Linked DNA regions of Homo sapiens: all the other regions are linked to region 5. Evidence: fine-mapped expression QTL. Tissue or cell type: whole blood. Region 5 holds a variant in brackets; each other region holds the start of a gene. Each region is shown on its reference strand, or each on the opposite one. Region 1 holds the start of DUSP13B (dual specificity phosphatase 13B). Region 2 holds the start of POLB (DNA polymerase beta). Region 3 holds the start of PBXIP1 (PBX homeobox interacting protein 1). Region 4 holds the start of CDKN1B (cyclin dependent kinase inhibitor 1B). Region 5 has its middle 52 kb from the start of IKZF1. Region 6 holds the start of MAN2A2 (mannosidase alpha class 2A member 2). Region 7 holds the start of ARF3 (ARF GTPase 3).

Region 1 (4,065 bases), not on the chromosome of region 5:
CTTTTCTTATGTGCATTCTAGTTCCACAGTTAAAAGCAGTAATAATATAAAAGGAAAGAAACATAGGGAAAGAGACGGTGGGAGGCAAGCGTGCCACCTCTGCCCTAGAGGGCTCTGAGAGAGGCTCATGCCCCCATTCCCGTGTGAACCTCACACCCTTCCGCCATCCCCACTCCTAACGTGGGTCTTACTCACGCATCTCCCAGGAAGAGGCTGGGCCAGACCTCATCGATATGGTTCAGTGTGGCAGCCTGACGGACCCACAGCAAGCGCTGCAGCGAAGCCAATGTGGGCGGCTGGTAGGGAGATGCCTGGACTGCCCCATGGATCTTGGGCCTCCGGAGGTCCTGCTTCTGCAGTGAGTCCATCCTGGAACAGAGTGGACACCGCAGTGGCTGGAGGCAGGCTCCCAGAGGGTGGATCCAGCTGATGGGGAAGCCCATGGTGCAGTGCCTAGGTGCCACGGGGATGCTGCAGGAAGGGCTTCATCTATTTCACATGAGGTATTAACAAGCTCAGCTGGGGCTGAGGCCTAGAACCCTTCCCCAGGGAACAAGGGAATCAAGCCTTTGTCACTGCTATGGAGCTGGGCAGACCTCTCTCCTGCCCTCTGCTGAGCTGCAGATGTATGAAGCTTTGGCCAAGGGGCCCTTGGAGTTCCCTGTTTGTGGCACTAGTCAGTGCAGATCTCATCCCTAAATCAGCTTGGACTTTGTAGGGATGAAAGCCCCAGATGGCTGTGGCTCTCAGGGCACCCAGGAAGCCCCCACCAACCTAAGCAGCTCATCTCAAGCCCCCTCACCTGCTACTTCCAGTACTCATCCTCAGACCCCCGTCCCCTCCCACTTTCAGGGGCTTGGAGATCAGAGCCTATCTCCAGGTAAGAGGCCAGGACTGTGAACTGGTATTTGTTAGCAACTCCGCATGGAATGAGCTAATGCCTCTTATAAGCCTGATGCCTCTGGCTGGGCACGGTGGCTCACACTTGTAATCCCAGCACTTTGGGAGGCTGAGGCAGGCAGATCAACTGAGGTCAGGAGTTCGAGACCAGCCTGGCCAATGAGGCAAAATCCTGTCTCTACCAAAAATACAAAAATTAGCCAGGTGTGGTGGTCCACTCCTGTAGTCCCAGCTACTAGGGAGGCTGAGGCAGGAGAACCTTTTGAACCTGTGAGGCAGAGGTTGCAGTGAGCTGAGGTCACACCACTGCACTCCAGCCTGGGCAACAGAGCGAGAGTCCATCTCAACAACAACAAAAAGCCTGATGTCTCACTCGTGGGATATCTGTTCCTATTTTACCCAGGAGGAAGCTGAAGCTCAGAATGTTTTAAAAGTGATGCCCAAAGCCATACGGCTCATGAGTAGCAAGGCTGGGGTTTTAGTCCATCCCCAAGCCTTTCAGTTACCATCTTTGGGGCCTCCAGAGAGTGGTCACTAACCCATCTGCTTCCTCAAGGGAGCCTGGTACTGCTGAGCCACACACCTGCCTACAGGCCCTGGGTTTTCCTCCTTACCCCCACGACTCAGGCCAGCACTGGATGTCAGGCCCCACCCGGGTCAGGTAGCTTGTTTCAGGCATCTGCTGGCTGAAGGAGTCAGGGACCCTGCGGAGCTGGATTTTCAGCGGCACCAGAATATGGGCCTGGTGCCGTGTTGGAGAGGGGGTCCTGTCTTTGCTAACTGCCCCTGATCCCCTGGACCAGTGACTAGGGAAGGTGCATACTGGGAAGAACATCTTTTCCCTTTGGTAGGCAGTGCCAGGACCAGAAAAAGAAACAGGCACCCAGGAGGCTGCCGGCTTGGCCAGGCTCACCCAGTGGGAGGCTGTCGGGCAAGGCGGAAGTGAAGACCAAGCTGTCCTCCTCATCCCCCACTGTGACCTCTCCAGGTGGCTGAGTGGCCTGCCACCTACCTGGGGCATGGCCTGGGGCCGGGAATGGGGGAGTGGGTGCAGGGGCAGGACTCTGCCTGAGCGGAACAGGGCTGGGCAGGTTCTGCCCAGAACACAAACACTGTGAAGCGGCTAGAATTCCAGGTGCTGGCTGGGGCGCCCATGGGGGGTGGGGCCTGAGAGCCGACTGAGGCCTTGTGGACTGCAGTGGGCCCTCCGGTCCCTCTAAACCCCCAGGCCTCCTCTCTGCTTGGTATCTGTTTGGGATTGAAGACCGTTGGTTCCATAAACCTCCATGAAGATGGGAGTCTACCTGAAGAGGTGGGAAGAGAACTTCTGAGGCAGGGAGGAGAGCCTGGCTCCCCCAGCACTCTGCCATAACTCATTCTGTGGCCACGAGCAAGTCTTTGCTCCCATCTGGACCACAGTTTATCTTCCCATGCTAGGGATGCTGGACTTAATTTTCAGGATGCTCTGGGGGTCTGACCCGAGAATGAGAGAGGAGTGTCTGGATATGCGGTCACTGCAGGGCAGAGGGCAGTGTAGTGTGGTGGAGTTGGGGAAGCCCCCAGGACCCAGAGGAGTCCAACAGCCACACTGGTCTGGAGCCATCAGGTGGGGCTGCACCACCCCAGGCAGGAGATGGGGCTTTGGGAAGTGGGACAGGCTCCGGGCTCAGGCCTGCGGAGCTTGGCATGGGGTGAGGCTGCCCCCTGGTGGCCAATGGGTGTGTCACAGCCCAGCCTTGCCAGGGAGCAGGCAGCCAGGCTCCACCCCCAGGAGGCTCCAGAGGGGTCAAGGATTTGGGGGCTGGTAGGCCACAGTGCATGCCTCTGCCTCCGAGGGGACCTAGGCCCAGGTCTGAAGAACGGGGCTCTCCCCTGGACTTAGCGCTATGCCTGGTCAGGCTCCACCTAATGCCTTGCTCCCGATGCTCAGGGTGTTGCCCCACCTGTCCACTCTAACCCACTGGGACCCAGCCCATCCCATCAGTCAGAGTCAGGCCCGGCCACCCCCCCAGGGACTCGTCCTTTAAGCCCCAGTCCCTCCCAAGGAGGGGAAGTCGGTGGTTGTGGCAGCTCCGCCGGTTTCTGACACCTGAGACTTGGTCTTCGGAGGGCCCTGCCTGACACTACATTCCATGTCTCCTTGTCCCCAGCTGGGTGAAGCACAGGCCCAACGTCCAGCAGGGCCAGGGCCCGGCCGAGCTCCCCTCCCACTCCCTGCAGTCTTCCTTCTCTCCCTGATCCCGTGCTCCTCCTCGCCCCCTTCCTGCCTCCCCCGCTCAGCAGAGCAGCTGCCTCTGTAGGCAGGGCTTTTCCTGGCTGCTCCTGTGCTGCTGCTGTTTGCAAGTCCATGCACTTCTTTTCTGTGTTTGCATCTCTCCTCCCTGGGTCACTCCCCCGTTTGCCTCTGTCTCCCATCCTCCCCCAGGAAGCTCATGTGCCTTTGCAGCCTCCCATGACGCTGCTCTGTGTGCCCAAGACATCGGGCAGAGGCACAGGCTTCCTTGGGGCAGGGGGCAGCTGTTTGCCATCCACCTCTCAGCTGCAGTTTCAGATAGTCCCCTGGACTTTCTTCCTGCCCATCCTTTCTGACTCCACTCCAGGGAGGCCAGACAGAAGTGTGGCCACAGGCCATGTGGGGCTGGAGATCTCAGGGCAGGACCAGTGAGGAGTGTGGGGAGAAGGCCTGCAGAAGGGTGGCGTGTGGCTGCCAGTGGGGAACAGCTGTGGGTCTCTGTGCTCAGCCTGAGGGTCTTGGGGAGGGCAGACCTGGGTAGAAATCTCAGGTCTGGTACTTGCAGCTATGTGGTCTTGTCTTCACCAAGCCAGTTTCTTCAGTGGGGCTGCTGTGAGAATTCCATGTAATAATTAATGTAAAGCACCTCCCACAGGGTCTGTCTTATGGTAGATGCCCAATAAATGGCACGTCTTACTATTATTATCACTACTATAATTACTCTTACCCTTTCCAGCCCCAGCCATATCCTATGTGGAGGGTAACTTCCCTACGGGACAGTGAGATTTCTTCTCTATCTCTGTATTTCTTGATATTTCTTTCTCTGTCCAGCAATAATTGTTATATTTAGCACTCATCAAGGATGTACTATGTGCCAGACAGAGCTAGGTGCTCACATTTTCTCATTGAATCCTCACAGTGCCTTTATGGAG
Region 2 (4,065 bases), not on the chromosome of region 5:
CCTGAGACAGAACAGACAAGGTCTGCTGGCAGACGGGATGTGGGGTGTGAAAAGAGCAATTAAAAATGACTCTTATGGGTTTGGCCTGATAGCAGGGTGGATTAAAATGCTATTAACTGAGATGGGGGAAAGTTAAGGAGAAGCTGGTGGGGCAAGAGTCAGGAGTTCTTTAGGACATTTTATCTTTGAGATGCCTATTATGGACTAGAGCTATCCAGTAGACAGCCTGATGTATGAGACTGGAACTCAAGGGAGAGGTCAAGACTTGAACTATGAGTTTAGGAGACTTTCAAGCTAGACATGCCATTTAAACAGGTAAAACTGGACAAGTTGGAAAAGCTGGTTAGAAGACTGAAGTGTGAAGCCATTTCCCATAAAGGCTGGAGAGTGGAGGAGGAGCTGGGAACCAGTGCTCAGGCGCACATGTGCGCACACACACACCCTGCTGAGGACTGGCCAGTGAGGAAAAAGGAAGCCCAGAGCATGTGGAATCTTAGAAGCCAATTGAAGCAAGTTATTTCAAGAAGAACTTTGTGAAGCAGATCAAATGTCGGTTGTTCTAAGACGATAAGGACAGATAATGGATTATTTTCCTTGGTTTCTCTGGCACTAATTTTAAAAATATAGTATTTGTAAAAATGGGCTAGGTGCAGTGGCTCACGCCTGTAATCTAGCACTTTAATAGGCCAAGGCGGGTGGATCACTTGAGGTCAGGGGTTTGAGACCAGCCTGGCCAACATGGTGAAACCCCATCTCTACTAAAAATACAAAAATTAGCTGGGCATGGTGGCAGGATCCTGTAATCCCAGCTACTCGGGAGGCTGAGGCAGGAGAATCACTTGAACCCGGGAGGCAGAGGTTGCAGTGAGCCGAGATCGTGCCATTGCACTCTGGCCTGCGGGACAAGAGTGAAACTCTGTCTCAAAACAAAAAAATTTGTAAAACTGATCCCACAATTCCCTACATTTGTAACTTTTAAAATTCAGAGGTAAATACATTTTTATTTAAGGAGGAATAATTCTTCAGAGCAAAATAATCTGAATATCACCTGGAATAGAGATTGGACAGAAAAAAGTGTGAACAGGGAAAACTAGGACAAGTCATATATGTAAATGAGAGTATAAAGAGTAAATGAGAGTGGTCACTGCTCACTGCAGCTTAACTAATCAGATAGTTAAGTTGCAGGCATAAAGTTTTTTTAACTTTTATTCCTCAAGTAATAAATTGAGGAAAATACAAATATGTACAAAATTTTTACAAAAGCTATCCATAAAAGGGCAAGTAGTAATATATAGAAAAGATCTACCAGATTAGTAACAAACTACCCCCATTAGGAAAATGGTAAATGATATGAATAGGAAATTCAAAAAAAGAAGAATTACAGATTTCCAATAAGCATAACTTAAGATATACACTGATATTGTAAGGAAACACAATCACCACAACCTTGCTAATCAAAGAAACTAATGATATTTATTGGAAAATAATGGGAATTTTTAATAGACTGGGTTAGAAGACTAGAAGTGTACGTCCCAAAATATTAATAGTTCAGCTGTAGGGTGAGATCACTGATTTTAATTTTCTCCTTTTATACATTTTTCCAGATTTCTCTACAGCAACTACGTATCATTTTGTAATAAATTTTAATTTTTCGATGCACAAAGCAATTGCCTGGAATTGCAGTTCGATATGAACCCAGGAGTTACGCTTGTAAAATAAACTATTGCTGATGTGACATTTCCATTTCTCAAGCAGACTGTAAATTTCTCAGATGTAGGTCATCATGTTATAATTAGGGTTCCATTGCTCATGATCTAGATGAAACACTTCTCCCTTTCTTGTGGTCTCTTCATTAATTTGGTCCCTACCGCAAAGGCAGGGGGATTAAAAATAAAATATCTTTTGACACTGGTTGGCAGGTGTACTAACACGTGTGCGGGAGGATTCCTGTTCTCGGCATGGTTCACGCCGGGCTCCGGCAGCGCCCTAGTACGTAAGGGGCTGCACTGGAGTGTGGACTGCCCGGTATCCTTAGAGAAAGTTTTGACAGTGTGACGCCAGTGTCGCCTCTAACCACGTACAAAACGCGCCATGCATTGGGTAGCTATTACAGTGCACATTTTTGTGCAGGAAGCTACCCCACCAGCGCAAGTATTTCAGAATCAAGATCGCACTCCCGTTTCCCCTTCTAGGGAAAGGATTCCAGATAAACACTGAGAAAACAGATTTAATATCTTAGGTCAAAACTCCAGGTCTTCCCATAGGAAGGCCCCTGGGCTGTCATTCTGAGGTGCCTATTTCCCCCGCGCCGTGTCCACGTCCACGAGTCCACGAACCCTCCGAGTTCTCTCTCCTCACCTGCCGAGGGCTCGCCCCTCTAGCCCCGCCCCGCCCCGCCCAGGACGCGTGACGTCACAACAAGCGCCGTGCGCCCCGCCCCCCATCGGGGGCAACCATTGTTCCGCCGGTCGCGCCGGAGCTGGGTTGCTCCTGCTCCCGTCTCCAAGTCCTGGTACCTCCTTCAAGCTGGGAGAGGGCTCTAGTCCCTGGTTCTGAACACTCTGGGGTTCTCGGGTGCAGGCCGCCATGAGCAAACGGAAGGCGCCGCAGGAGACTCTCAACGGGGGAATCACCGACATGCTCACAGGTTAGCACCGGGCCGGGCCCCGCTGGCTTTCTTCTTTCCTTCCAGCCTCTTCCCCTGCCTTCCTTCTCTCCCACACCGACAGTCCAGTGGGTAGGGTAGGTTCCTTGCAGCGGGTCGTCTTCCGTGGGGATCTCCCTCCGGCGCCCCTGGCTGGTTGTCAGTCCTGCCGGCTACACCTGGGCCATCGCTTGGGCTGCTTTTGGTCTGGCCCTTGGAGGAAACGGGTGGTCACTGTCTCTTAGAGGCTGCCATATCCCCTTCCAGAAAACAGTTCTCGTTTGTTTACTCGTGGTTCTTGTTCACCCGAGCCTTCTGTTGCCTTTCAGAACTCGCAAACTTTGAGAAGAACGTGAGCCAAGCTATCCACAAGTACAATGCTTACAGGTGGGACAGTGCAGCATTCTCGGGTAGCATACGTTCTGGGATACCCTGTTTAGTGTGGCAATTAACAGGACTGAGGGCCCAGTGGATATTTGGTCCATCTGCAAGAGCGGGAAAAAGCAAGAATCGAGGCTGGTACCTTACTATTTCTTGAAGAATGTGGGCAGTGCGTTATAGGATCAGTTCAGATAAGTTCCCAATTCTGATTGCAGATAGCTGTAGCCTGATACGTATTTTGTCATCATCAAACATGAATTACTAGAAATGCGGTGTAATTTTAACCGTAATGAAAGACAGCGGATGAAGTCCATACTGTGAAATATATGTGGTTCAAGGAATCACATTTTTTCTTTTGGTTGGTCTAAAGTTGATCCTGTGGGATCCTGATCCTGATCCTTGTTCCTTGTTCATGGGATCCTGTCCTTGTTCATCTCACCAGGGGCCTTATCCTATTCATTCTTTCCACATCCACCTGCTTCTACTCCTTAGCCTATATTTATTTATTTATTTATTTTTATTTGAGACGGGGTCTCGCTGTGGTATGATCATGGCTCATTGCAGCTTCAACCTTCCAGCCTCAAGTGATCTTCCCATCTCAGCCTCCTGAGTGGCTGGGACTACTACAGGCGCACGCCACCACACCCAGCTAATTTTTTTTTCTTTCTTTTTTTTTCTTTTTTTTTTTGTAGAGACCGGGTTTTGCTATGTTGCCCAGGCTGATCTCCAACTCCTAAACTCAAATGGTCCACACACCTTGGTCTCCCAGAGTGCTGGGATTCCAGGCATCAGCCTCGGTGTCAGCTCTCCTTAGCCTATAAATATGTGCAAGTCCCTCAGCTCTTAAAAGCAAAACCAAAACAATCTTAACTTCCCTCTAGCTAGCACCTTCCCTCTTTTCTCACTTTATGGTGAATCTTCTTGAAAAATCTTCATTCCTTGCCTGGACTTCTTAATACCTAATCATTTACTCAAGAAGTCCCAGTCCTTGCCTGGACCTACCAGTGCTCTGAAAATCCGCTCACCTACGTCTCATCTTA
Region 3 (4,065 bases), not on the chromosome of region 5:
CCAAGGTTCAAGTGCTGGGCAGCAGCCTCCAGAACCAAGCCTGGTTCCAGTCCTTCTCTCCCTGACACCCCAGCTCTTCTAAGCAGTATTTGCCTTGCAAATCAGAATCTGCCAACACCCACAGAGAAGCCAGCCTCTTCCAGGGACCAACAGGGCCTTGGAAAACTGAACTGACCTTGAAAGGTCAAAGTAGCATAGGCTGGAAAGGCTCTGGGGAATTCCAGTCCAGCCCCCTGACATTTGAGTCAGGGAAGATGAAGCCCAGCAAGGTTGACAGACTCAACTTGCCAATAAGAAGACTTGTTAATAAGAAGAGCAGGGAAACAACACAGCCCTCCCTTCACAACACCAGGTACCTACACAATCACTACCTTCTCCCCCAGGACCTGGAAGGGAAGACTCAATGGCCTCCTTCAGCCCTAAGTGTCCCACCACTTGCCCAGCATAAGTCCTTGGTATGGTCTAGTTCAGTGGTTCTCAATCTTGGCTGCACATTGGAATCACCTAAGATTTTGATTCAATTGAGTTGGGGGGTAGGCCCGGCTGTGGGTCTTTTAAAAAACCACTCAAATGATTCTCATGCGCAGCCAGGGTTAAGAGCCACTGGCATAGCTTAGATCCACCTGGATGCACCTTTTATAAGTCTCCTCATCACTCTCAGTCTTCATCCTAAATTCTGTTTACCTTCTTAGTAATCGCCAGAGTTTGGTCTTAGGGAACTTGAAGGTGACTGGGAAAATGGATTTATGGCAACTATCATGTATATATACATCACTTTATAGCTTGCAAAAAATAGACAAAAATCAGGGCTATGGTCCTGCACCCGGTTAATCTGCTCTGACTTGACAGGGATAGGGGAGGGAATCACTCCAGTTTCCAAAGCCTGACTGACACAAAGCAGGGTAAGAAGAGAGGGATCCGCCCCTTCATCCAAGGCTAAAACAGTTCCCTCAGGCAGCTCCTGTTGGGACCAGGCATAAAGGTGGAAGGATAGATGAGCTGACCTCTCAAGAGTACTGGATTGTGATCCCTCAGAACAGGATAAATGACTGCTTCCCGAGCACTTTATAAGAAAACTCAGGAAAAGGGAAGTGAGGCTGGGAGAGTATGGCAGTTCTACCTTTGAAACCAACCACATTATCCCCTTCTGTTTGAGCTGTTTTCAAGTCCTGCGTGGTGCCCTAAGTAACCTCCTGTGGCTCCTGCCAGTCAAGATCCAAGTCCTGGATAGGTCTTTCCCAATGCCCATCCTCCCAGACACATGCACCCATTCCACACGGAGACAGGAGAATGGCTGCAATGACCTCCCTGTACCAAATCCAACAGGACACCCTGGCATGCATCTGTAAGTATCCATAGAGCCATGGCTGTTCAGCCTTCCGCTTGTGGCTCCACCCCCGCCCTTGTTATCATCTCCCCATCCCCAGTTGCTGACTGTTAACAGGTGGTGGCAGGAAGGAAGTGGCAGCAGCTTGGGCTGAAGTCCCTGTTTATCCCTAGCTGTGTGTGCAGCCTGCTCAGGTCCTCTAGAACCAGGCACCATGGCAACCACAGTGATGTCAGACCCACTGTCTCCATGGAAACCAGCAAAGGTATTTGGGTCAACAAAACAAATACTTATGAGACCCAAATAGGAGACACTCTGAAACTCCTATACTCTGGGTTCCAAACCCTGATACCTCTTTCTTGGTTAGGTTAACCCAGGGTTCAAAAAAACACCTCTTCTCCCAAGCCAGCATCTCACTGCCTTATTAGGAAGTTCCTTCTGCTGTCTAATCTCCACCCTTCCCTGCTGTGTTTCCAGATCTTTTTCTTTTCATCGACCTTCTGGAAGAAAACCCACCTCCACTCCCTCCCTCCACCCCCTTCTTTTCATTCAGGCAGGATTCAACAAACACCTCCTGTAAGGATTATGACAGAGACTTCTGCTATTTCTAAAAAACAGCTAAAGGGGGAGCTCTCCCACTCAGCATAAAGCTAGGAAGTCTCGCCTCTAGTTAATTTAAACTCCTCTAACAGTTGCTCCTCCAAACCGCTAAAGCAAAGGATCTAGGGCCACTTGCCTGGGGTACCCAGAGCAAGTTCCTGTTGTGTTAGCGTCGGCACCTGGCCTTCCTCCCCCAGCCCAGAAATGAAAAGCAGCTCATTCCTTCTAGATTAGTTCCGCCTTCCCTTTTCCTTATTCCACCCCCTTCAAAGCGAATCTGTGGACCCCTTCCCAGCTAAGGCATTACCTGAACCAGCTCTTGCTTCGGTCTTCAGCTTAACTTGTTGCAGGCTTCCCTTTGTTTGCAGCCCGAGAAGAAAATCATGTGACCAGAAACTGACCAATGAAAAGTCAACTTCCCCAAGGGGGCGGAAACTTTTGGCCAATAAGAGCAGGAATTGAGAGCCAGGGGAGGGGAAGGGAGGTCTAGCGACACGGCCCTAAACCTGGGCTTACCTCCTGGTGGGCGACCGGGGTCCCAGCTAACCGAATCCTGAGTTTCCTGCCCTTCTTTCCCAGTGTCTAAACAGTTTCTAGAGGGAACCCCCACAAACTGAGAGAAAAGCAGACGGTGCCGTCTTCTGAGATGACGAAGACAAGGGGCCAGGTTGGCCCCAGGATAGACAGAGACAGCTGTGAGATGGGGGAAGGGAGAGGGACAGGTCGCAAATCCAGGGTGTGGAAATAGCCCTCCTGCCATTCTCCCCAATCTGCTCCAAAACAGACTGCTTAAAAGATGCCATTGCTACTTTAAAAAACGGTTGGGGGACGGGAACGATCTGAAAAACATCCCAAAATGAAATTTGCTAGGACAGAAGCAGCCCCTCCCCTCACCCTTAGAGCGACACTTGCTCCCTAACCCAAACAACTGGGAGGTGGGTGGGGTGCTAAACCCAGAAGAGCTCAAGCACTTGTCTTCCAGAGGCTGTGGTGCCAAATCCGCCTGGCTCCAGGCCTGGCCCAGGAATATGCTCAAAAAGGAAACTCAGTTTCTCACAGTGGAGACACAGGGGGATGGGCGGGGAAACACAGGCCTCCCTTGGCTCAGCAGCTTATACCAGGGTCAGCTCAGGGGCCAAATCTGCCATTCCCACTCCCAGGGACCCTGGGGAGCATACATATCCTCAACCCCTAAGCACCCTACCCAGCAGTGACAGCGGCTCATTCCAGCCTTTTCACACAGCAACAGCAAGGAGTCCTTGTCTGGGATTTTAAAATCATTTTATTAATCCAACAGTACAAAAGACCCCCACCACCACCGCATTCTGCCATCACTTTGTTCCAAAAAGTAGTGGAGTGAGAGAGCGAGAGGGAGCAGATCCAGCAAAAACACTCCCCCAGGGGCCATTTTACAAAATGCGGAGCAGGGGAAGACAACACAAAAACAGCAACAGATAAATGGGGCAAACAGAACAACAAACACAAGAGTTGAGCAGCGGGGTGGGGGTGGGGGGTTGCCATCTACGCCGTTTTAGTGTGAGGGACACTGGGAACGATGCCCAGAGGCTGCTCTCCTCCCAGCCTCAAAGGTTGTCAGCTCCACCAGAGCAGGGTCTTCTCTCCTCATGCCAGGAACTGAGAGAAGTGGGGGTAGGGGACCACTAGGTCTTTGCCACTGTATCTTGAGCTGGGGGACTCCTAACTTCTCCGAGGGCCACACCCCATGCCTGCCTTCCCCACCCCATGGAGGAATGTGTGCATGAACAGAAAAGGAGAACGAGCAGCGCTAAGGTCCTCATCAGGCCCCAGGCCCATCTCTGGCAGGCAGTGCTTAAAAAATAAAAAAAGACAAATAAAGCCCAGTGCAGGCCTTTGGCTGAGAGGAATGAGAATTGCTAATTAATCACCAGGCCCAAGAGGATATGAAAGAATAGCAAAGAGAAGCAACAAACTCCAGGCTCTTCTACCTTTGAGTACCATGGCAATGAGGATCCCGCCGCATCCCCTACCCACAGGCTGTGACAGGGCCTCACTTGGATCCTTTTATCATGGAGGAAATGAGGTATAGGGCTCTGCGCCTTTTCAAGCTTTCCTTCAATCAAGCCAGGAAGGCAGGGGAATAAGGGCGCCGAAAGTTG
Region 4 (4,065 bases), not on the chromosome of region 5:
AGACAAAACCCTGAACCAGTGAGAACCATTAGGAAGGAAAGGAACAGAAAATGAACCAACCTGAGTGTTAGGAGACTTGCATCTAGTCCTGACTCCGGTACCAACCGAATGCATGTCCCTGGACAGGAAACCTCTCTGAGTCTCGATTTCCTCCGTGGTAAAAAGGAGAGGGTTAAACCACAGGGTCCCGAGGGTCCCTTCCAGCTGTCACATTCTGGAGCGTATGAGATGAGGTAGGCACACAAAGTGGACAAGATGTGGCTAAGAAAACAAGCTACACATCAAGCTCATCTGTAGCATAGGTGCTTAAGAAAACTTTGCTGCTGTGTAATATTAGAACGGAAGGTTGGTTTCCAGTAAAATGCATTAACTTTGGCTCAAACCAAGATGATGGGTACCGGGCATGGGGGTGGGGAGGCAGTTGAAGATCCACTGAGCTTTGTCTCAGGGCAGCCCTGCTCATCGTCCTACTTTACCTTCCACCACGGTGCTCAAGCCCACACTGAGAGAGAAATTTCCAGCTGCAAAAGGGAGAAGAGAAACGCTGGAATACTAGTATCGGACGTTAGGACATGGTTGTGGTGTTTTAAAAATCATTTCATCATCTGGAGTTTGACCCCGAGGGGAGTATTTTCACCCTTCAGCCCTCTGAAAGCATTCACTAGCATCTGAATATTGTTCTGAGTTTGTTGGAGCAGTGAAATCTGGTGAGAGAGAAGGGTGGAGGAAGGAAGGAGCTGTTGTATTTGGCGGCTGGACTCAGGTAGAGGAAACTGCTACAATCCCGGGAAAGAACAGAAAAGTAGAAAGGGACGAGTTCCCACACGCAGCCAATGTCCATGGCCTTAACTGTGCTTGGGAAGGAAGATCCTGGGCCAGGGGTGTACCCTCGTTTTTCAAAACTAAACGTGTCTGAGACAGCTACAAAGTTTATTAAGGGACTTGAGAGACTAGAGTTTTTTGTTTTTTTTTTTTAATCTTGAGTTCCTTTCTTATTTTCATTGAGGGAGAGCTTGAGTTCATGATAAGTGCCGCGTCTACTCCTGGCTAATTTCTAAAAGAAAGACGTTCGCTTTGGCTTCTTCCCTAGGCCCCCAGCCTCCCCAGGGATGGCAGAAACTTCTGGGTTAAGGCTGAGCGAACCATTGCCCACTGCCTCCACCAGCCCCCAGCAAAGGCACGCCGGCGGGGGGGCGCCCAGCCCCCCCAGCAAACGCTCCGCGGCCTCCCCCGCAGACCACGAGGTGGGGGCCGCTGGGGAGGGCCGAGCTGGGGGCAGCTCGCCACCCCGGCTCCTAGCGAGCTGCCGGCGACCTTCGCGGTCCTCTGGTCCAGGTCCCGGCTTCCCGGGCGAGGAGCGGGAGGGAGGTCGGGGCTTAGGCGCCGCGGCGAACCCGCCAACGCAGCGCCGGGCCCCGAACCTCAGGCCCCGCCCCAGGTTCCCGGCCGTTTGGCTAGTTTGTTTGTCTTAATTTTAATTTCTCCGAGGCCAGCCAGAGCAGGTTTGTTGGCAGCAGTACCCCTCCAGCAGTCACGCGACCAGCCAATCTCCCGGCGGCGCTCGGGGAGGCGGCGCGCTCGGGAACGAGGGGAGGTGGCGGAACCGCGCCGGGGCCACCTTAAGGCCGCGCTCGCCAGCCTCGGCGGGGCGGCTCCCGCCGCCGCAACCAATGGATCTCCTCCTCTGTTTAAATAGACTCGCCGTGTCAATCATTTTCTTCTTCGTCAGCCTCCCTTCCACCGCCATATTGGGCCACTAAAAAAAGGGGGCTCGTCTTTTCGGGGTGTTTTTCTCCCCCTCCCCTGTCCCCGCTTGCTCACGGCTCTGCGACTCCGACGCCGGCAAGGTTTGGAGAGCGGCTGGGTTCGCGGGACCCGCGGGCTTGCACCCGCCCAGACTCGGACGGGCTTTGCCACCCTCTCCGCTTGCCTGGTCCCCTCTCCTCTCCGCCCTCCCGCTCGCCAGTCCATTTGATCAGCGGAGACTCGGCGGCCGGGCCGGGGCTTCCCCGCAGCCCCTGCGCGCTCCTAGAGCTCGGGCCGTGGCTCGTCGGGGTCTGTGTCTTTTGGCTCCGAGGGCAGTCGCTGGGCTTCCGAGAGGGGTTCGGGCTGCGTAGGGGCGCTTTGTTTTGTTCGGTTTTGTTTTTTTGAGAGTGCGAGAGAGGCGGTCGTGCAGACCCGGGAGAAAGATGTCAAACGTGCGAGTGTCTAACGGGAGCCCTAGCCTGGAGCGGATGGACGCCAGGCAGGCGGAGCACCCCAAGCCCTCGGCCTGCAGGAACCTCTTCGGCCCGGTGGACCACGAAGAGTTAACCCGGGACTTGGAGAAGCACTGCAGAGACATGGAAGAGGCGAGCCAGCGCAAGTGGAATTTCGATTTTCAGAATCACAAACCCCTAGAGGGCAAGTACGAGTGGCAAGAGGTGGAGAAGGGCAGCTTGCCCGAGTTCTACTACAGACCCCCGCGGCCCCCCAAAGGTGCCTGCAAGGTGCCGGCGCAGGAGAGCCAGGATGTCAGCGGGAGCCGCCCGGCGGCGCCTTTAATTGGGGCTCCGGCTAACTCTGAGGACACGCATTTGGTGGACCCAAAGACTGATCCGTCGGACAGCCAGACGGGGTTAGCGGAGCAATGCGCAGGAATAAGGAAGCGACCTGCAACCGACGGTAATGACCCTTTCCCAACCATAGAATGTGTTTGGGGCCCCGCTTTGCCTGCTGGAGGGTGTTAACCTTAGCTTGCTTTTCGGCGTATTCTGATTTAGCTTTGGGAGAGCTAACTTTATTGGTCTTAGGTGTTCAGTGCTACCTGGCCCACTGCTTGTCTGTTTGTGACTTTTAAGTCAGAAACTGGAGATGGTAAGATCCGATAATTTCCCTAACTTAATACATCGCGGTCCCTCTCACTAGCAACTCCTAGGTATGTGACAAAGTTGGGATGTTTATCAACGGTCCGCCTCCTGGCTAGGGAAAGAGCTCTGGGGCGGAGAATGCACTTTCTGTTTTTTGAAAACAACCTCATTTTGTGCCCTTAAAAGCCACTGGGGATGACGGATCCAGGATTGTGGGTGGAGGTAGTGGGTTTTTCATCCCCTGACTATGGGGCCAACTTCTGCCAGCCATTGTTTTTTCTAATAAAGATTGTGTGTTCTTTTTAAAAATTTCCCCTGCGCTTAGATTCTTCTACTCAAAACAAAAGAGCCAACAGAACAGAAGAAAATGTTTCAGACGGTTCCCCAAATGCCGGTTCTGTGGAGCAGACGCCCAAGAAGCCTGGCCTCAGAAGACGTCAAACGTAAACAGCTCGGTGGGTTGATCACTAAAGGAGCACGCACTGGAACCCGGGGCCTTCAGACCTCACGATACCTGATCTTACTGGTTGCTGGCAAATTAAAAGCTTATGGGGTTTTGTTTTGTTTATACTTCGTGAGGTCAAAAAAGTAGCAATGGGGAAGGCTGGGGATACGGTAATTCCTCAGAGTTTCTATGCCCAGAGATACTTTCTCTTCAAACTGTTGACCAGAGCAGCTACTTGTAACCCAGGCCCCATCGGGTAGGAAGGTCGTTTCCCTGTGAGTCCCACTAAAACGTGTTGGGAGCAATAGGTTCTTTGCCCATCCGAACAAGAACTAGGGTACTCCCTCAGTCCGAATTAATGAGAATTAATTTCCTAGAGGTTCAGCTTGAGTCGGTAACAGATTTTGAGCCATACATGGAAAAATGGCAAATACATGATTAAGTTTCAATTTTGAGGGGGAATGTTTGGTAGAAATTGCTCATCTTTGGTTATGCAAGGGATTAGAGATGTGAATAGGATGGTATGTTGTGTTCTTTGACATTTTAATAAACTGTCACTTTCCCTGTTGTCTCCTAAGTTTGGAGAGAGAAGGAACCAGTATTTGCAAAAACCAAATGGAAAGATAAAAAAGTTACTAAAGTTTCTACAGAATTTCTGGTAACACTGAAGTTGCAAAGCAGAAGTTAAATTAACTCTTGTCAGTAAGCAATCCAGGAACACGTCAGCCAGTGTATGCTAATTGTGCCGTAACAGGGTGATTTGGATATTTG
Region 5 (4,065 bases):
ACCAGCTGCCATCTATTTTTGTAGCCATAGTGAGAGATTATATTTTAGATGATGATAAAATAGTCACTAAAATGATTTTTAAATTGTTAAACTATTACAAGCATAGTCAGTACTTATTATGCTTTATTATGATCTGAAAGTCACACAAGTTTGTAAACTATCATTATTATAAGAACTGTTTTAAAACAGATGACAGGGGTTGTGTTTTTTCGTTATTGTTGTTTTGTTTTCTGTCTTTTAAGACATTTTCTGTGAAGCAATAGATTCATGAAGGAGAGAGAACAGCATTGATAGGAAGTAACTAAAACTTCATTTCATTCAGCTTGTGCACATGTACCCTAAAACTTAAAGTATAATAAAAAAAAGTTAATAGATCCTCCATGAGCTTTAATATCCAATGTCCTCATTGTGAAGTTGCCTCAATTACGTGTGCTACAATTTGCAAACCAGTTAAAAATAAAAATGATAAATTGGCAACTAAGTTCAGCCAGTCCTGGAATTCTAAAATTCTAGGATACACCATTGATTACTGGTAAAAATACGAAGATTCTCCATCATCTTGAATTTTATAATTCTGACAGCTTTATGGAAGGAACATATTCTGCCATTGTCCTGGGCATCACTCTACAAGCTTTCTTGCTTGTAAGTAGATCTGAGCCAAGTGCCAGGGCTGCAGAAGCAAGTTCTAGGGCTTTGGAGTCAGACAGCATTGGATTCCCACTGAATTAAGTACTGTGCTTCTGCGCCTAGCCTCAGGTTTACTATGTATAAATGAAGTCTAAATAACCACCTGGTGGGCTAGTGCAAGTATTAAGCACAATAATGCCTCTGAAAGGCCCAGGACATTCTTGGAACAGAGAAGCTCTGTTTCTGCTCAGCCTGTCTCCATTCCTGCCTGATTAGCTCAGGACGCCACAGAGAGCAGGAGGGGCAGCCACATAACAGGTTGGGGGGTGTGTCCATTGGACCAGCTTGCATATCATCTCACCTCTGACTGCACTGTCACTGGCCCTCATGTGCTCTCCCTTCTTTGTCTGCTAAGACCCTCCCAATGGTTTGCTGTTGACATCCAACCTCAGCTCTGTTCCCTAGACTCCGATGCACATCTCTCCTCTCCAGAACCTGCCTCTATGGAGTGGCATTAAACATCTGCCATCCTGAGCCCTCGCTGGTATGGTCCCAAGACCTCCCACAAATGTCACAAGTACCACCAGATACCTGAAACATTCTTTCCCCAACTCTTGTCAGAATGTCCCAACCATAGGCTCTCAGCTTCAGTTCTGCCTGCCTGGTGACATGCCGGCCTGAGGCAGTAGGACAGCCTTGCATGTTTGGCAATAGAGCTGTGCTTCTCTGAATGATTTAGGAATGATCTGGGTATATTAAAAAACTAAAAATCCAAGGTGTCTATTATGATACATGATTGCCAAATCTGCCACTCTTTATCTCCCAGTTGTTCCTTGTCCCATTACAATTTGGTTTAGAATTAACCCATTCCCTCCAACCGTTCTTGCTGGCTTGTAATTGTAATATGTATGCAATGGACACAAAATCTGAAGCATCTCTTCCTGAGTCCCGGTCTGCCTCTAACTTGCTTTGTAAATAGTCACTCTGTCTGTTT[A/G]AAGTGTCTCCACCCTCTTCCTTCTATCTTCTGTTAAGCTACAGGAATGCTGTTTTCTAAAATGCCATCCTTTATGGAAAGATCATGACATTCCTTTCCATAAAATCCTAAAATGTCAAACATAAGAATCATTTGGTTCTTTGTAATACAGCTCTAGCTTTACCTCCCACTATTTTTTCAAAACCTAATATGTACCTTATATTTATTTCTTCATGTATCTTACATTACAAACATATAGACCCATGTGCACTTTTCCAAATTGATCATATTCTTTCTTTTTACAGTAATGTTTTCTGGAAACAATCTCAAATTTAGAGATAAGTTTCAAGAACACTACTAAAAAGTTTGTACCTTCAAATCATTGATGGCAGGTTGTGGACATAATGCTCAATCTATCCCAAACTAGAGTACATTTTCTAAAAACAAATAAATTACCCAAAAACATATTCCATAAGTCTATCAAAATACAAAACTAAAATTGTTATATGACTGCCATTCAATCCACAAACCCAATTCAAGTATCGTCATTTGGTCCAAAATATCCTTTATAGCAAAGGGATCAAGTTTAGAAACATGCATTGCTTTTAGTTATAATTTCTCTTTAGTCTTCTTCAACCTGAAAAAGTTACTCAGTATCTCCTTGACTTTCATGTTCTTGACAGGTTTGAAGAATACAGGCCAGGTGTTTTAGGAATTTCTCCCAATTTGGATTTGCCTGGTGTCTCCTCATGATTTGCTGTGCTGTGATTTGTCTTGCTGTGTCCTATCAAGTGAAACACAGTTTCGATTTGTTTCATTACTAGTGATGTTGACTTTGATTGCTTAAAGTGGTAAGTGTCATGTTTCTTCACTGTAAAATTGTTTTTTTCCTTTTTAATTGAGGGTTTTATGGGTAGCTGCTTTGAGAGACTATGCAAATATCCCATGCCTCATTAAAGTTATAATTTGTTCACTTATTTATTGTCTATATCACTATGAACTATTGGTTCCCTATTAAATTCAGTGGATTACAATCCATTACTATACTGATGTATTTTAATGTTTAAATTCTTCTAGATTTGAACAGTGGGACCCTCTTCAAGTTTTCTTCTGTGTCCTTTTAATGTGTTCCTTTTCAAACCTTAACAACTTTCTTACTTTATCACAGCAAACTATTCCAAGCTCATGTCATATTTTCTCTGTTCTAGCTTTGAAATCAACCATTATTCCAAAGATCCATGGTTCCCATTTGGTGGAAATGGTATTGCAAAACCAAGAGCTGGATCTAGGTGTACTCATTGCTATTGAATGTTGCTGTTTCTACTATTTCTTGGAGACAGAGCTAGGGCATATCATTGTATAAATACCTACACATAGGTGATAATATGGACAAATCTACAGATAGCTTCGATTTCAATTCAGAACCATAGTTTTAGTTTGGTTCCTTTATATTTCTAACATCCTTCTCCAACAATAAGAAACTAGCTCTCATTATTCTTAATATTTATTTGATTAATCTCCTTGGCCATAACCAATCTCCCTCTCCTGCACTGATGCCTCTTTAATCCCAGTTGGCCCAGACACCTCACATCAGGCTGCATGGCACACATCCAGGTCTTGTTGCAAGCTAAAAGCCTACCAAGAAAAAGGACAACACTTACCCTATATTGTGTCTTCTTCCGAGTATCAACTCCACTGTGGCATCTGCCTATGTTCATTCACCCCGGTGCCTTCAGGTTATATTTTTGTGTTTTGTCCAGGGTTTTTAGCTGGTCTCTGGGAGGTTTGGTCCAGCAGGAGCTAACACAGCCATAGCGGAAGCTGCCATAGGATTTTGTTTATTTTCTTTTCCTTCTGTTTTGTATTTGTGAATTTTCTTTATAAGATCAAGAAAGGATTCCTGGCCGGGCGCGGTGGCTCACGCCTGTAATCCCAGCACTTTCGGAGGCCAAGACGGGCAGATCACGAGGTCAGGAGATCGAGACCATCCTGGCTAACACGGTGAAACCCCATCTCTACTAAAAATACAAAAAATTAGCCAGGCGTGGTGGCGGGCACCTGTAGTCCCATCTACTAGGGAGGCTGAGGCAAGAGAATGGCCTGAACCTGGGAGGCGGAGCTTGCAGTGAGCCGAGATAGTGCCACTGCACTCCGGCCTGGGCGAGAGCGAGACTCCATCTCAAAAAAAAAAAAAAAAAAAGATTCCTAGTTTCCTAAGAATTTTTATCATGAATCGGTATTCAATTGTATCTCATGCTTTTTCTTCATTTATGGAGATAATCATAAGATGTTTCTCCTTAATCTGTAAATGTGGAAAATTACATTGGTTAATGTTCCAATATTAAGCAAAATTTGACTTTTTGGAGTAATCCCATTTTAGTTGTCTGTATTGCTGTTTATTATATTACTGGATTTTGTTAATATTTTGATTAGGGGTTTTGTATCTGTGTTCATGAAAATAATTT
Region 6 (4,065 bases), not on the chromosome of region 5:
CAGTCATCTCTGTCCTTATCTTTTGCCCGGGTAACTTCACTGTTGCAAATTCATCATAAAATAACGTCTTAATCTGTTCGGGCTGTTAGGACAAAATACCATAAAGTAGGTAGTTTATCAACAACAGAAATGTATTTTCTCACAGTTCTGGAGGCTGGAAAGTCCATGATAAGGCATAAGCGGATTCAGTGTCGGGTGAGGGCCTGCCTGTGGTGCACAGATAGTGCCTTCTAGCTGTGTTCTCACGTGGTTGAAGGGGCCGACTCTCGGGGTCATTTGATACCGGCACTAATCCCATTCATGAGAGCTCTCCCTTCAAACTCTGTTCACCCCCAAAGGCCCATCTCCTAATACCATCATCACCTTGAGGGATTAGGATTTGAACATGAATTTGGGGGGTCACATTCAGATAATGTTATATATAACTTAAAAAGAACAAAAATGTGGAATTCATGGAGATGTTCATTGCAGTATGGATTACACTGAAAAACTGTAAACAACCTAGATGCCCAGTAAAAGGGAAACAGCCAAGAAAAGTCTGTGTCTTGTTCACTCGCTGGCAGGAAACATAGAGCAGGCACGGAAAGGAAAGGGACTCGAGGAATGCGCTGTACCGACAGGAGGCAGCACCCCTTTGCCCGAGGGGCGCAACGACAGAGACCTAAGGCTACCTGGGCCGGAGCCGGGTGAGGCCGCGGAGAACGCACCCCGCTACGCGTCTGCCGAGACGGAGGCGGGCGTTTCGACCACTGCCCGATCATGCGCTTACTCAAGTAGGATTCCGAAAAAATTCAGTCGCGCGTCCCTCCTGAGGTTCCGCAGCTGGCCAGGCCCGGCCCGGGCTGGTGCGGCTGCGCACTGCAGCCCAGCGGAGCGGGCCCGGGAGGAGCCGGGCGGGGACCGCGGCGGCCAGAGCTCCTGTCAGCTCCGCCGGGCACACGCAGGCCGGGGCGGGCGGCGCGGCTGTCCCCGCCCCGCACGCTGCTGGGCCCGGCAGCTTCAGAGGCTGGCGGACCCGCGCGGGGCCGGCGCAGCGGAGCGCGCCGGCGGCCCGGGGCCCAGCGGGAGCGCGGCAGCGGCGCGCGGAGCAGGGGGCTACGGGTGGGCGGGCGCCCGCCTTCGCCTGCGTCGCTGCCTGCACGCGGGCCGCCGTCCCCGGGCGTGTGAGAGCCGGCAGCTCGGCCGACTGGGCCCGGAGCGGCGCGGAGGCCGGGCGCTGACGGTAACGGGCCGGGTGCGCGCGCGGGAGGGCTCCGGCTGCCCCGACAGAGGCCGGGCTCGGGCGGCGGGAGTGCGAGCGCCACTGCGGCGTCAGAGGGGCCAGGAAGGGACAGGAGGCTGCCTGAGGCCCGTACCTGGCGCCTGTCTCTGCGGTCCCCGGGGCCGACGAAGTCGGAGCGGGTGGGGAGGGAGCCGGGCGGGCGGCCAGAGACCTGGCGGCAGGTGCCTGCCCTCTGTGATCCAACTCTCTCCCCAGCTCCACCCACATTGGCCTAGACCCAGTCTCTAAGGGCTGAAAATATTGCCCGGAAGCTCCCGAGCAGAATCAGATCGCGCTAAGTAGGGCACAACGCAGAGGCGACAAAGCTCCTCGGCCCCAGGGCCCGCGGAGCAGACTCCGGAGCGCGGTCCCGCCCACGCTCGGCTCCGCAGTTAGCGTCCTCCTTCCTCCTGAGCAGGCAAGCGGAGCCCGAGGGCGGTGGCGGCGGGGGGCACGGGTCCCCTGAAGTTGCCTCGCAGCTGAGCACTGGGCCCCGTCTCTCCCTTCCCAGGGGGCCTTCGGCGTCACTGCAGGCTTCCTAGGGGTCCCCTAAGTGCTCTGCAAACCGCGGCTGGAAGTTTCCCACTGCAGTGAACAGTAGAGAAACAGGGAGAACACACAGGGCTTGCTTTATGCTAGAAACACAAGCATCTTTCTTCTTTATTAGAAAGAAACTCATTCTGTGTTTCTGAGAAAGGATCGTGCCAGGCACTGTTTCTGGTGAGTGCCAGTTTGACCCGAAAGGGCACTGAGAAAGGCTTTCCTATCAGTCTCTTTGGGTTCTGGCTAAACTTTTAAATCAAACAAAATAGAGACTAGCTTATTCACCTGAAACTAGAAGCACATGGCCGAGGAGCCTGAACAGGCACCTCCTATCTAGGCAGGGAAGCTGTGTAATCAGGAGCTTGTGTGGTGCGCTCCAGTCGGAGCTGGGACTCTTATCCTGGGCCCGTTTTTCATAGCACCAGCCAAAGGAGAGCGTCCTCTCCACCCTAGCGGCAGAGCTGCTACCAGGACCAGGTGGGCCAGCCTCAGATGTGCTGCTTGTGCTACTTGGAGCCAGGCAAATGGGTGTTCCTTTGGAACAGCCCTCAGGAACTCACTGGGGTATTTGGTGGAAAGACTGCCACGGGCATTTTGCATGTTGGAGCTACAGATGGTGTCCTTCCTGCCAGGTGTGTGTGGAGGCCAGTATGAAGCTGAAAAAGCAGGTGACAGTGTGTGGGGCTGCCATCTTCTGTGTGGCAGTCTTCTCGCTCTACCTCATGCTGGACCGAGTGCAACACGATCCCACCCGACACCAGAATGGTGGGAACTTCCCCCGGGTGAGTCGTGCCTGGTTGCTAATTTCTTTGTATACAAGTCACCTGGGCTCAGGGTATGCACCTCCCACCCCGCCGCCTCCCCTCCCACCCCCCGCTGGAGGGTAATGTCAGTACAGGACAGGAGCCTTCCTTCCCAATAGTCAGGTTTTGTAGAAACCCTCAGCTAAAAACAGTGATGGCGAAAAGAAGGAAGGAAGAAAAAATGTCAATGGCAATGAGTATTGTCACTCTGTTCTCCTGAATTCTTTTCTTTCTTTTTTTTTTTTTTGAGACAGAGTCTCGCTCTGTCGCCCAGCCTTGAGTGCAGTGGCGCGATCTTGGCTCACTGCAACCTCCGCCTCCCAGGTTCAAGCAATTCTCCTGCCTCAGCCTCCCAAGTAGCTGGGACTACAGGAGCCTGCCACCATGCCCGACTAATTTTTGTATTTTTAGTAGAGACGAGACGAGGTATCGCCATGTTGGCCAGGCTGGTCTTGAACTCCTGACCTCAGGTGATCCACCCACCTTGGCCTCCCAAAGTGCTGGGATTACAGGTGTGGGCCACCGCGCCCAGCCCCTCCTGAATTCTTGGCAGACATTGCTAATTGATTGCAGCATTCTTTGCCATTAAGCCCCGCTGAAATCCTCAGCACAGGCAACACCGATTGTTGAGAATAGGTAGGTGAAAGGAAATCTTTGCCATCCCTGAGCTAGAGAGTGATGGTTCTCCCAACCCAAGTGGAGTGTAGTCCTCAGTGGTGATCTGCACAGCTCCCTTTATCTGAACGGTGTCATCTATCCCTCTAGGCTCATGGTCTGGCTTTGACTGATGAGGGAAGAATTGTACTCAGGCCTCAGCTGGTAGACCCCAAGCAGAGACCCTCCCTGTGGCATAAGGAGCTGTGTGTGATTGCTTTCTGGTTTTTTGGCAGAGCCAAATTTCTGTGCTGCAGAACCGCATTGAGCAGCTGGAGCAGCTTTTGGAGGAGAACCATGAGATTATCAGCCATATCAAGGACTCCGTGCTGGAGCTGACAGCCAACGCAGAGGGCCCGCCCGCCATGCTGCCCTACTACACGGTCAATGGCTCCTGGGTGGTGCCACCGGAGCCCCGGCCCAGCTTCTTCTCCATCTCCCCGCAGGACTGCCAGTTTGCTTTGGGGGGCCGGGGTCAGAAGCCAGAGCTGCAGGTAAGAGTCAGAGCTGGCAGGGACGTACAGTGGCCACGACTGGGGTACTGAGCTGCAGTTCACCTGGCAGATGCTCACTGTGTCGGAGGAGCTGCCGTTTGACAACGTGGATGGTGGTGTGTGGAGGCAAGGCTTCGACATCTCCTACGACCCGCACGACTGGGATGCTGAAGACCTGCAGGTGTTTGTGGTGCCCCACTCTCACAATGACCCAGGTGAGGGCCCTGCAGACTCCTGGGAGCTGGAGTGTGGAGTGGGATTTCTGATGGCCAATACAAGGGAGGGACGTCGAAGAAGATGGTGGCATCCT
Region 7 (4,065 bases), not on the chromosome of region 5:
TTTAACCAACCTGGTTTTAAAGAAGTTCCTCCTTCTAACCAATAAATCCCACCCTCTATCCTGAGTCCACTTCCTCTTATTATGACTCTAGTGTAAAAGAGTAGGGTGAACACACACTACAATATGACTCTTTGTGCACTTAGTATTTCACTCACTTCCACTCTTTCCAGTCTGCTCTCCTTTATACTTGCATTCAGTATAATAATAGCAGCTACCATTCACTGGTACCAATTCTGTACCTGACACCACACATATACATATATTGGTCCCTCCTCCAAACTCTCCAGGATCCCAATTCATATATAACACTTTGAAAGACTTAGGTCTGATGGAGAGACCCCTTTGCCCACAATGGGGAAGCAGGAAATCTGGGACTGCAGATAATGACTCTGTGTTCTAGTAATATTTTTCTTTTTGGGTCTTAAGTTTCCATTATCTATGCCTATTCTGTGCCTCTTAGGAAGGCAGAGACACAAAAACTTCTTAATTACAAAGGCTAAGGGTCTTTGTACCCTTGCTAAGCTATTTCCAGGCACTTCTGCTGACAGCCAAGCCATCTCTTGCCCTTTCCTTAAACTACAGTTAGAAAGCTTGTTGAGTTCTATCTATTTACATTCTAAATTCATCATGGGTACCTACTGTTTGCATGGGCATTGTGGAAGAGGAGACGAAATCCAGTTCCTGCAGTCGAAAAGCGTCTAGTCTCTTTGGAAAAGCAAGATAGACAACTATAAAAATTCTAACTATGCAAGGTAATAATTCTATGCTGGGAAACAGGACGCATGTGAATATGTGATACATGGGAGCCTTTCCTGGCTGAATCCAAGGTCAATCATTCATTCGGTGAAAAGCTGAACCTTAATGGATTAGTTTCTTTCTTAGAATGAACTTTTACAGACATGTTTTTCAAACTCAAGTCCAATGGGCTATGATAATCCACTGTCCCATAACACTGTCCCATGTCCCAAGTCACGGCAAGTGGAAACACCTACCCCAACAACAAGCCCAAGACAAAATAGCAGCAAAGACTGTTACTACCTACCTGATTGAGGACAGGGAAGGAGGTATGCAGCGACTAGATTCTGTCCTGTTGCACTGACCCAAGCAATCAGACTCTTGCAGCAGATCTCCTCCCAATAAAACTTTCATGCCATAGACCAGGGGTGACCCAATCCAACAACAGCAGAGACAGGTTTTAGGTTACATTTCTCCCTCACCGGGACGGCCTTACTATTTCTTCTCACTCCTGACCACATACCACAATCCTCCACCTCCACCACCACATTCCTCCTGGCCTGGAAAGATGGAGACCCGCCTTAATGCAATCAAGACGGGAATTCCCCCAAAATAACAGCTACCACTTTGCTAATCAAGTGGCCCGTTTTAACAGGGAACTCCACCTCCCCAACTCCCGCCCCTTCCCTCAAACGATTCGCGTAAGCAATGGCTCCATTTTCTGTTCCGGGAATCCTGGTACTTCCTAAAGAAAGAAAGCGGATTGGAAGACACAAACTGAGGGCCAGTGACAAGATGCTCCCTCCTCCTGTGAGACCGCCCCCGCTCCGCCTGGGGAGGAAGGCCCCACCTCTCTTCTCCCAGGAAGATCAGATCCCCCTCCTCCTTCTCCTGCCTCCTCTCCACCCTCTCCCCACTTGCTGCCCTCTTCCCAACCTGCGGTTCCCTAGACTCGAAAGCGCAACCTCTACCACAATAGCGCCCATGTGGTGCCCCAGCAGCCTGCCCTGTTGGCTAACCCCCAACCCCCCTACGCACCCCTGCCCTATGATGGGGGAGGGGGTGTAACCACAGCAAGGCTTCTCTCCCGTCTCCTATTGCTAAGGTGGGGGAGGGAGAGGGAGTAGAAGAAAGCAGCATTCCCTAGCCCTTTAACAGAAAAGATACAAACAGCCATCACCGCCCCCTCATCACCTCTCCTCGGACGGTTTTCCTCTCCCTCAACAGCACACCTCCTGCAGGCGACAACCTAACTGCAGCCCAGGTCGCCCCCTTGAGCGAGGCGGAGGACAAATCCGTGTGCGCCCCCCACCCCCACCCCAGCTCTGCGTCCTTCAAATGCGGGGGCAGGCGTGAAGCTGGCCCGACGCACCCTCTCTGAGCTCTCGGGTGGGAAGAATCCCACCGCCCCACGCCAAGCAGTGCCGGGCGGGGCCCGGGAGGCGCTCTATCTCCTCAGCCCTCACCCTGACCGAGCCTCTTCTCTACCGGGACCCGCCTTCCCTTCCCAGCCTCTCACCTGTTCCTGCTATCAGCTGCGCCGCTGCGGCCGCCGCCTCTGCCCCGCAGGTTCCGCTCCGCTCCCTCTGGCTCCCCAAGCCGACTTCAGCCCGGCTGCTGCCCTGGCCCACTCCCCGGCTCCCTCCTTCCTTCCCTCCACCTAGCACCGGAAGCCGCGACGGCGACTGGAGCTGTGCGGCGTACCCCCACCCCCAGCCCGGGATACTTCCCACCTCCCCGATCGCGCGATAGCTGCGCGGTAGCTAGCGGCAGTTCTCGCGAGACCCATCACCATGGCAGCGGCTGCAGCACCGGCGGCCGGGCGCTGGAGCTGGAGTCAGGGCGGGGGCAGGTGTGGGGGCTGTGGGCGGCGGAGGCGGGAGCCGTGAATGGGGATGAGACAGTGAGGACTGAGGTGACAATCCCAAGCTCCAGGGTTGTGCCTGGAATTTAAGGACTGAGGCGGCAAGTTGGCTGCGTAGGAGACGGGCTGGGCTGCGGGGCCCAGGGGCTCCTTGGGCAAAGCCAGCATCGGGATATGGGTGAACAGTCGTTGCTGTGGCATGCCTTACCCAGCCAGACTTCATCTTTATTTCTTAATCTGGGCTAGCTGCCATCCCCTGAAAGCCCTCACCGCACCATTGTTGTTGCTCACTATTCCTGAGACTAGATTACTGTGGGGTCTGAATCAAGAGATCCTTTCCCATAAGGAAGAGGAAGGAGAGTGATGAACTTAAGAGGCTAAAGGAAAACAGCTGGACTCTGAGCCAGTTAAGTTGGAACTTGAAAGACGGAGAGTGGAAACCTAATATTCAGAAGTGTGGTTTGAGGAAGTGTGCCTAGATGAGTAGGGATTTTAGTATCCCAAGGAAAGGTGAAGGACTTTGCACCCATATTTCTTGCTTCCTACCCACTCCTACTTCCCTCACACTCCGTTTTGCACCTGGTCTAGACATGCAGAACTGCCTTGAAACAAAAATAGCTGTGATAGAAGGGCACTAGTAATGCTAAGAACAGAAGGTTCCTTTTTTTTTTTTTTTTTTTGAGACAAGAGTCTCACTCTGTCGCCCAGGCTGGAGTGCAATGGCACCATCTTGGCTCACTGCAACCTCTGCCTCCCGGGTTCAAGCGATTCTCCTGCCTCAGCCTCCTGAGTAGCTGGGATTACAGGCGTGAGCCACCGCGCCCGGCCAATAGAAGGTTCTCTAAGTGCCCTCTCTCCTCATTTACAGCAGTATAAGGGAATGAACACATGGCTCTTCCCTAAGGCTTGAGCCCAAATTGTTGCTCTTATGAATTTATTGCCTTGGTTGATTTTGTTTGTTTGTTTCCTTGCTTCCAAGAAGAACTAAGCTGGGGCCAGGCCCTGTGTTCACACTTGTAATCCCAGCACTTTGGCAGGCTGAAGTGGGCAGATCACTTAAGGTCAGGAGTTTGAGACCATCCTGGCCAATATGGTGAAACCCTGTCTCTACCAGAAAATACAAAAATTAGCCGGGCATGGTGGCACATACCTGTAATCCCAGCTACTTGAACTGAGGCCAGAGAATCGCTTGAACCTGGGAGGCGGAAGTTGCAGTGAGCCAAGATCGTACCACTGCACTCCAGCCTGGGCGACAGAGTAAGACTTTGTCTCAAAGAAAAAAAAAAAAAAAGCTGGTAGGTGCCATATATGTCGATCTCCTTGTCCTCATCAATCCCTGGTGTATGCACTTACAGTCCCTTAACCCAGTCTGTTCTCTCTCTTATGTTAACCTGATAACATGACCCTAGAATGTCAAGCTAAGGGGACCTTAATTTAAGATGGTAAGGGATGAGATGGATGACAAG

The links. PIP is the estimated chance that this variant, and not a neighbour inherited with it, causes the effect. A credible set is the group of variants that fine-mapping cannot tell apart.
Region 1: DUSP13B starts here. The variant in region 5 is the best candidate, but not a certain one, in a credible set for the expression of DUSP13B in whole blood (TOPMed, PIP 0.53).
Region 2: it holds the start of POLB, and the variant in region 5 is the best candidate, but not a certain one, in a credible set for the expression of POLB in whole blood (TOPMed, PIP 0.55).
Region 3: it holds the start of PBXIP1, and the variant in region 5 is the best candidate, but not a certain one, in a credible set for the expression of PBXIP1 in whole blood (TOPMed, PIP 0.62).
Region 4: it holds the start of CDKN1B, and the variant in region 5 is the best candidate, but not a certain one, in a credible set for the expression of CDKN1B in whole blood (TOPMed, PIP 0.56).
Region 6: MAN2A2 starts here. The variant in region 5 is the best candidate, but not a certain one, in a credible set for the expression of MAN2A2 in whole blood (TOPMed, PIP 0.59).
Region 7: ARF3 starts here. The variant in region 5 is the best candidate, but not a certain one, in a credible set for the expression of ARF3 in whole blood (TOPMed, PIP 0.53).

What each region holds. Positions count from the first base shown.
Region 1 is chr10:75,097,517-75,101,581 of GRCh38, forward strand. DUSP13B (dual specificity phosphatase 13B) reads right to left here and starts at 1,996. Exons shown (of 4, transcript NM_001363514.2): 1 at 1,515-1,996; 2 at 196-369. The coding sequence starts at 1,921. It also overlaps a transcript of SAMD8 not described here.
Region 2 is chr8:42,336,039-42,340,103 of GRCh38, forward strand. It overlaps POLB (DNA polymerase beta), which reads left to right and starts at 2,456. Exons shown (of 14, transcript NM_002690.3): 1 at 2,456-2,647; 2 at 2,974-3,031. The coding sequence starts at 2,587.
Region 3 is chr1:154,953,835-154,957,899 of GRCh38, forward strand. PBXIP1 (PBX homeobox interacting protein 1) reads right to left here and starts at 2,265. Exons shown (of 11, transcript NM_020524.4): 1 at 2,235-2,265. PYGO2 (pygopus family PHD finger 2) reads right to left here. Exons shown (of 3, transcript NM_138300.4): 3 at 3,192-4,065.
Region 4 is chr12:12,715,651-12,719,715 of GRCh38, forward strand. It overlaps CDKN1B (cyclin dependent kinase inhibitor 1B), which reads left to right and starts at 1,718. Exons shown (of 3, transcript NM_004064.5): 1 at 1,718-2,664; 2 at 3,175-3,304. The coding sequence starts at 2,190. The coding sequence ends at 3,296. It also overlaps a transcript of GPR19 not described here. RefSeq lists silencers at 1,102-1,671, 2,096-2,284 and enhancers at 1,692-1,741, 1,822-1,921, 3,772-3,851, 3,922-3,971.
Region 5 is chr7:50,251,037-50,255,101 of GRCh38, forward strand. No RefSeq gene overlaps it. Among named protein-coding and RNA genes, the nearest start is that of IKZF1, 52 kb to the right of the region's middle. The variant A/G (reference allele first, on the strand shown) is at 1,622.
Region 6 is chr15:90,901,754-90,905,818 of GRCh38, forward strand. MAN2A2 (mannosidase alpha class 2A member 2) reads left to right here and starts at 1,549. Exons shown (of 23, transcript NM_006122.4): 1 at 1,549-1,679; 2 at 2,437-2,586; 3 at 3,498-3,755; 4 at 3,826-3,970. The coding sequence starts at 2,455. RefSeq lists enhancers at 590-639, 2,480-2,539 and silencers at 810-1,079, 1,100-1,529.
Region 7 is chr12:48,955,056-48,959,120 of GRCh38, forward strand. ARF3 (ARF GTPase 3) reads right to left here and starts at 2,432. Exons shown (of 5, transcript NM_001659.3): 1 at 2,255-2,432. RefSeq lists enhancers at 629-1,624, 1,680-1,759.